2 linked regions of the Homo sapiens genome follow. The protein of the gene in region 1 purifies or fractionates together with the protein of each later gene. This does not show direct contact. Each region holds a gene or a part of one and is shown on either strand. Other genes may lie near its edges.

The links.
Region 2: the proteins of WDR43 (region 1) and SRFBP1 purify together in Homo sapiens (co-immunoprecipitation; one large-scale study listed by IntAct). This does not show direct contact.

What each region holds. Positions count from the first base shown.
Region 1 is NC_000002.12:28,901,092-28,904,759, reverse strand, and holds part of WDR43 (WD repeat-containing protein 43), read right to left. Parts: intron 2,774-3,668; coding exon 2,636-2,773; intron 1-2,635. UniProt on the Homo sapiens protein: Ribosome biogenesis factor that coordinates hyperactive transcription and ribogenesis. Part of the small subunit (SSU) processome, first precursor of the small eukaryotic ribosomal subunit.
Region 2 is NC_000005.10:121,971,975-121,975,642, forward strand, and holds part of SRFBP1 (serum response factor-binding protein 1), read left to right. Parts: intron 1-2,221; coding exon 2,222-2,310; intron 2,311-3,340; coding exon 3,341-3,413; intron 3,414-3,668. UniProt on the Homo sapiens protein: May be involved in regulating transcriptional activation of cardiac genes during the aging process. May play a role in biosynthesis and/or processing of SLC2A4 in adipose cells.

The DNA.
Region 1 (3,668 bases):
GTTACATTCAGTTACTTTCCTTCCTTCCTATCAGCTGTGTACTCCAAGAACTAAGTCTTATATACACGCAAGTAACTAAAGGATATGAACAGATACATTCCACAGAAAGAATTCAGTTAGAAAATATACCAAAATATTCAACCTTGTTAGTAATCAAAGAAATACAAACCAAAACAAAGTGGCATTTTTAGTCTGTTCCTGTAGCAATGTGTTTAGCCTTATGATGCCCATGCTGGTGAGGTTACATAATACTATTGCCAGCAGCAGTGTAAACTAGCATACCCTTTTGGAAAGCAATTTAGCGATGTGTTCACTCACTTGTTCACTTACTCATTCAACAAATATTTACTAAATACCACTTACAAGCCAGGCACTTTCAATACATTATTACATTTAAGTCTTAATAAAATCATGCAAGGTAGGCTGTTAATACCCATTTAAGGGATGAGAAGTTAAATTATTCACACATGATCATACAACTAGTAGGATTCAACCTCAGGACAGACTAGCTCCAAAGCCTGGTCCTTTTCCACCTTACCATACCATCCCAGTACCCCTCACCCTGACCCTCTTGACTCCTTTTTGATAAATTCATCCCTGTCGAAGATGTATTTACAATCTTGTAAGGTTGTGAAATGATATAAAAAGGAGTTCTAGGCTGGGTATGGTGGCTCATGCCTGTAACCCCAGCACTTTAGGAGGCCAAGCAGGCAGATCACACGAGGCCAGGAGTTCGACACCAGCATGGCCAACATGACAAAACCCCATCTCTACTAAAAATACAAAAATGAGCCAGCTATGGTGGTGCACGTCTGTAATCCCAGCTACTCAGGAGGCTGAGGCACGAAAATCACTTGAACCCAGGAGGCAGAGGTTGCAGTGAGCTGAGACCGCACTACTGCACTCTAGCCTGGGCGACAGAGTGAGACTCTGTCTTTAAAAAAAAATAAGTCTTCTAGGCTCCAGCAGCCACAGCAGCTGAGCAGCTATCACACTGCACAAGATGCTAGGTACCTGCTGAACACAAAAAACCTATCCAATTAAAGGATAGGCTCCTACCTATAGTAGGTGTAAGAGCTCACCTGAGGACCACACTCGACTTGGAGGAGGGGGGAAGAATATAGGGAAGAATGCTTTCTTGAGATGGATCTCTGAATGCTTTAAAATTCATTTATAGTTGAGTATTATTTTTGTAATCTTAATATAAAAACAAGTAATACATTCCTAAATGCAAACTTAAAATCAGATTAAAATATTCCTCTACCAAATTAGCTGTTTCTTTGTTGTCGTTGTTGCTGTTTTGTTGGGCTATTCAGTAGTGGTAATGATACTGCTGAGATAAAGTACTTATCTCCTATCACTGATATTAAGCATAAATTAGTAAAAATTATTCCAGAAAGTATTTTTATACTACATATATAGCAACCCTTTGGCTCACTAATTTTAGGTTAGTAATTCTGTGAATCCATGTAAGAAAAAGAAATTGTTTTACAACAATTTAAAAATCTGGAAACCCCTAAATGGTCAACAAGTTAAGTAACATAATGGACTATCCCACTTGTTGGGATTTTAAGCAGTCACTAAAAATCTCTATAACCAGTTATTGACAAATATAAGATAGTTATGTTGTAATCTAATGAAAAAAATCAGGATACAAACTAGATGAACAGAAAGCCAACTATATTTTTTTAATGTATGTATAAAGCAAAGAAATATACAAATTATTAAGAGGACCTCTCGGCGACAGACTTAGGTATAAATTTTTTTCCTTTTCAACTTTATGTAGTTACAAATTTCCTATAGACAAATGTTATTTAAAACAAAAAACTTAAAACACTCCTATATACAGAAGTCCAGCGAACAAAAACACACTGCAATAGATATTGTCTGAACCTACTAGACCAGTTCGGTTACTGTCTTCCAATGCCAAACCATCCTTTATATTCTGCTGTGATGCTGGGACTCAGCAACCTGATTTCTGATTTCCCAGCTCGATCCATAGGTTCTACCAATAGCAACTGCTAGAGGGAGACAAGGATGGAGAGAGAAGGGACTTGTTCCTTCCTGTCTCTTTATTTGCATCACCCCAACAGTGGTAATGCCCAACAGCAGCAGCTGAACCCAATATCCAATTTATCCAACCCTAGGAGAACCAATCTCATCATCTCCATCAGAGACACTAGCACCAGGCAGCTGGAGCCTCCTTCTCAGTTTGAAGTCTCGATCCCATGCCCATGGGGCCACTCTTCAAGAGACAGCAACAGCAGCACAACACTTGCCCCTAAAAGATCTCAGTGTTAGCAGTAATTTCAACTGCCTCCTTTATTCCCCTAGGTCAAGAGGTGGGGAGCTGCTTTCCACAGCTGCTATCTATGATTCCTTAGAGTTCCTGTAACCCTTCCTTATTTTAAACCTAGTCAATAAGTCTTCATACTCTGACCCATAATAAGGACTGCTGTTAACTATTATAGCTTTTATCAAATATTACTATTCAGTTATTTAAACGTAGATGAGACTGAAAACTGTCCCTACTGCACAGATCCCATCACATACCTTGAAGTGTTTTTTTTTTAATAATCTCTAATAATCAGCTTCCCTGTCACATCACTTTTAAATAAAATATACACACACTTACTATTAATTTACTGTGTAACTCTCCTTTTACTGTGCTGTATAATAAAATGCTACCAACTGCTGTGCCAAGAGCCAATAAGTCAGTCTGGTTACTCATTCCTACAGCTTCTGATTTCCTTTTTTTCCTCTGGGGACTTTCCTGGAAAAAAAGAAAAACAATGTTTTTATTTAGTATTGCAAATACTAAAACATCGTTAATGAACAAATACAAATGCCCACCAGCCCACAAAAGACATTTTAAAAGGGGGGAAGAGAGAAGCTATTGGGTGATTTACTTCTCACTACTTCAAAAAGAAATCCCTCCAATGGGAAGAGAAACTCGTAATTCTATGTCCCCCGTCTCCCACCCCTATGGAAAAAAGGCAGCAAATAGGAAAACCTAGTATGTTCTTGGTACTCTCCTAACAGGTCCAAGAAGCCTCAATGCTGTTTCCACTTCTCAGAAACAGGCCGCCCCTCCTGACAGGTCCAACCTAAGCGAAGCCTTCACTCCCCAACCAAAGAGATTCATACCCAAAAATCTATGAATCCGTAAGTCCATATCTAAGCAGCCAACTCTCCTTTATCTCTCCTAATTTTTCCACAAATTCTAGCTTAGTTGTCAAGAAAAGAGCCTCAAAAGTTTTTACCTTTATAAACGTGCATTAACTTCAATTTGAGTCAACAAATAGCTTTAACTAGTAGAGCAGCTCAGAGCACACAAGAGAGAAGTTGCCCCACTGACTGGTCAAGGGCTGGCTCAGTGATTCAGTGACTTCAGAGACAAAAGTCTCACTCAAGTGGCAAATGCCACAAGACTTCTTTCATTTCAAAAGTGATGTTAACAGCTCATGTCTTCCCAACAAAAAGACAATGACCCTAACTTAAAAGCACTACATCAGTTTATAATGCTGAGTATTTATTATGATTTCAGAACTTCTCTTCCGTGTTTTTTTAAATTACGGCTCACCAGCCTATATGTTTTTAGCATAAAGTTCTGAGAAATCCATTCTTTCACTGTAAAACAAGCCAATACCATAGAAAAGAGAATATCT
Region 2 (3,668 bases), on another chromosome or scaffold:
TGAGTTTGGACGTCTCTTTCTAAAAGCTTAGTTCTCCACACAACTGAAGAGGGAGTGGTCCTAGTGAACCATGTAATGAGGATGTTTATTTAGTCTCTAATGAAAATGACTCAATCATGTTTAAAAATCAGTGGGAAACAAATGCATTAAAAGGAAGAGAATGACAATGCTATGGTAAAGGGATAATCCATAGTAGAGGTTCTAGGAAGGCAGAAGAGAATGGGCTCTAAAAGACAGTTAAAAGATAAACTCAGATATGTGTAGTGGTATTTCTTATATTGTAACTTTATTCGTAAAGGAAGATGGGTCATGGAAGTACATTTGCATTCATGGTAGTAGAAAAATGATGGTTCCCAACTGATAATTATTTTCTCCACACGATTGAAAGAGAGAAAGGAGGACGGAGACTAGAGGATTTAGGAGAGTAGGCAAAAGCTTAAAACAGGCATTGTAGAGTGAACTGAACAGAAAAATACAGGATGGCTAGGAAGAATGGGGGTCCACTTGAGGTTAATTATGATGAATTTATAGTAGACAGAATGTTACAAGTATTTGCTGTTGGCATATGACAATGAAGAACTCAGAGTGTTTTTTTCATTCAGGACTACGGTTTCCTCACCAGAGGGGCAGGAGTTTAAGAAATTGGCAGATGTTATCATGTATCTAAACTGCATAAAAAGAGGAACATTAAGTGTAGGAGTCAGTGGATTGGTGGTCCTAATGAAGTCAAAGATGGTTGTGGTGGGTGGAGTTGAACAAGCAAGCTGATAGAGGTTGTGATCACAGTGTGGAATATTTGAATTAATGGTTTTAGAAATTGAATATTATGAGTGATGACAAGGTTGACAGTGTGGCCATGGAAGTGGATGGCTGAGATAGAATAGATTAGGTCTTTAGAAAATAAGTAAAGAAGTGAAGATATAATTATCAGATGGGCTATTCAAGTGGACATGCAAGTTACACAGAATGATGGCAGAACTTAGGGTGTAAAGAAATTGTAAGTTGGTTGCTAATATCTTCAGTGAATAAGGGAGTGAATGACATGAAGGGTAAGAGAAGATATTAATTAAATGGAAGAGCCTTAAAGAAACAGGATGATGTTGATAATGTTATTTTGGCAAGAAGAATTTGAGGAATTTTTTGTGCCAGGCACTCTTGCAGGGCAAAGAAAACACTATATAAATATTACAAGACTCCTGTTTTCTAGGAGCTTGCTGTCTATAGAAAAAGACAGCCACATGAGCCATTAGTAACAGTGCAGTGAGGTAGATGCTTTAATGACAGAATCTGTATAGTGGGGACCCCAGGGATGGAGTGGTTATCCTTAACTGAAGAAGTCATTGAAGGTATCACTGGAATGACTATATCTGAACCTGAATTTTATATAGTTCCTAAAGTGAAGAAGGGGAAGAAGGACATTCCAGGAGTAATTTTTAAGATGTATGCCTCGTAACTGATAGATGAAATATAAACTCCGTAATTACATGCCATTGCACTGAAAGCTGTTATAATGTGTATTTTTTTTATAACTATAATTTCCATTTTTTGGCCTATAGCTCTGCTTTTTGTTCTTAGAGTTAAACATTGTTCTCCAGTAGGGTGATTTAAATTATGTATTTGTATGTGTGTGCATGTGTGTGTGGGGGGGGGGCATGTATGTTTACATGCACATATGCTTGCACACAATGCCCTTGTGTTTGTGGATCTTCTTTTAAAATTATACTTGAAATAATTTGTTACTAAAAATAATGAAAGATTTGTTTTATAAATATGTAAAATAAATTGCTAATTAAAAGCTAATTTGCTAATTAAAATAGTCATTCAACAAATTAAATTCCTACCATTATGAGTGAGGCTTTGTTTTAACGGTGGGAATACAAAGATGAATATGACAGGCTGTGATTTCAGGGAACTCACTGTTTATTATATTCCAAGCCCAGCAAGATATAAGTGTAACATTAAAATACTTATCTCGGGTAATACTGTGACTTTTTAAAAAATTATAACTTGTTTTTCTTAAGCTCTCAGACACATTTTTAGACTGTTGATTTATTCCTTCACTATTTATGGAAGAGGTTTGATTTCATCAAGCTACGAATATAGTTAGACAATAAAAGTAGTTAAAGTGGTAGACTAAGTCTCAAATATTAAGACTCAAAATAAAGTGTGTTTGTTCCTGAAGTAAGTGCCTTTCTTCTAATTATTGCTTTATTCTTCAAAGGTTGTGAAGATGAGAAAAGAAGTGAAGAGAATTCGAGTTTTAGTTATCCGAAAACTTGTCAGGAGTGTTGGCCGACTGAAGTCAAAAAAGTTAGTCATTTAAAGTAATGATCTTGTGACTAATAAAATGTCAAAAGTTGTTTTTATTTGATACTTTAAAATGTTTAGGGTGGGATATAGAGAAGTAATTAAATGTCTTATACACCATTTTTGTTTTGTATGCGGAGATGATGTGAGTGAGATAGAATGTGCTGTGTCAGCATGCCCTTCTATGGTTTGGACCATCATTGCTCAAGATACAGGATGAATTTTTTTGCTGCTTTTGCAAAACTCTCTTTTGGTCTTTTTAGAATGAAATTCCCTTGGGCTTGTGTGTTTTGTGTTATCAGAAGTTATTTTAAGATACTGATACAGCTTAACAAATCTAGTAATACCTTAAGAATCAGTTTTGAAGATTTTATATCACATTTTTTCTTGAATTGCTAAGTAATTTGAAATCTTCAGTACCTTATGAAAGTGTTTATTAGAACATTGTGTTCCATGTAATTTTTTGGAAAAATACAATATTTTGTATTTTCAGTATCACTAGTGTTAGTGAAAAAGTATTTTATTTATAGTTCTTTTTATGATGTAAGCATGAATACTTAGTCTTCAAGTATGTTTTGTTCCTGATTAATTTCCTATTCTTTCATAAATATGTCAGAATATAGCCCTTCTTTATTTTTTCCTTAAATGCCAGAGAGCAAATTTTCATTTGATAAAATTATAGTCAAACTCTAATTGTAAATTATGACATTTATATTACATTAAATACAATGTACGATTGATTGATTTAAAAAAGTGTTATTAAGGAACTAGAGAAGGCAAACTATCAAAAGTAATAGTCATTAATACAATGGCAAGACAGTACTTATTTTTGCCATTTTCCAACATATGGGTTTGGTTAGTAAATTGAGGTGTGTTTTGGGAGTGGGGGAAATGGACAGTGTAGGATAGTGGCGTGTTTGTTATTTAGAGATTTATTACGCTTTTCTAAAAAGAAATGAAGTGATTATCCATTACACTATAAGTCTAAAATTAATGCTTTGCCTGGCTACATATCGTAATGTATTTTTTGCAGGGGTACTGAAGATGCACTGTTAAAAAACCAAAGACGGGCGCAAAGATTGCTTGAAGAAATCCATGCCATGAAGGTAAGGACTTGTGTGGGTGTGTATGTGTGTATGTTTCTGAGTATCCTGTTATCCTGCATTTTGTTTGTGTGTGGTATTGCTTATTTGAATATTCCCGAGAGTTGCGTAAGACATCTTGTATCAGTCTGTTTGGTGAAGAATGTAGCACATTTAGAAAATTGTAACATTTAAGCTTGCATTTTTCTGTTTTTGACTGAATTTGTTAAAGTGCTAGGCTAATTTGAGTCAAAATTGTGCCAAACTAAATTCATCTAT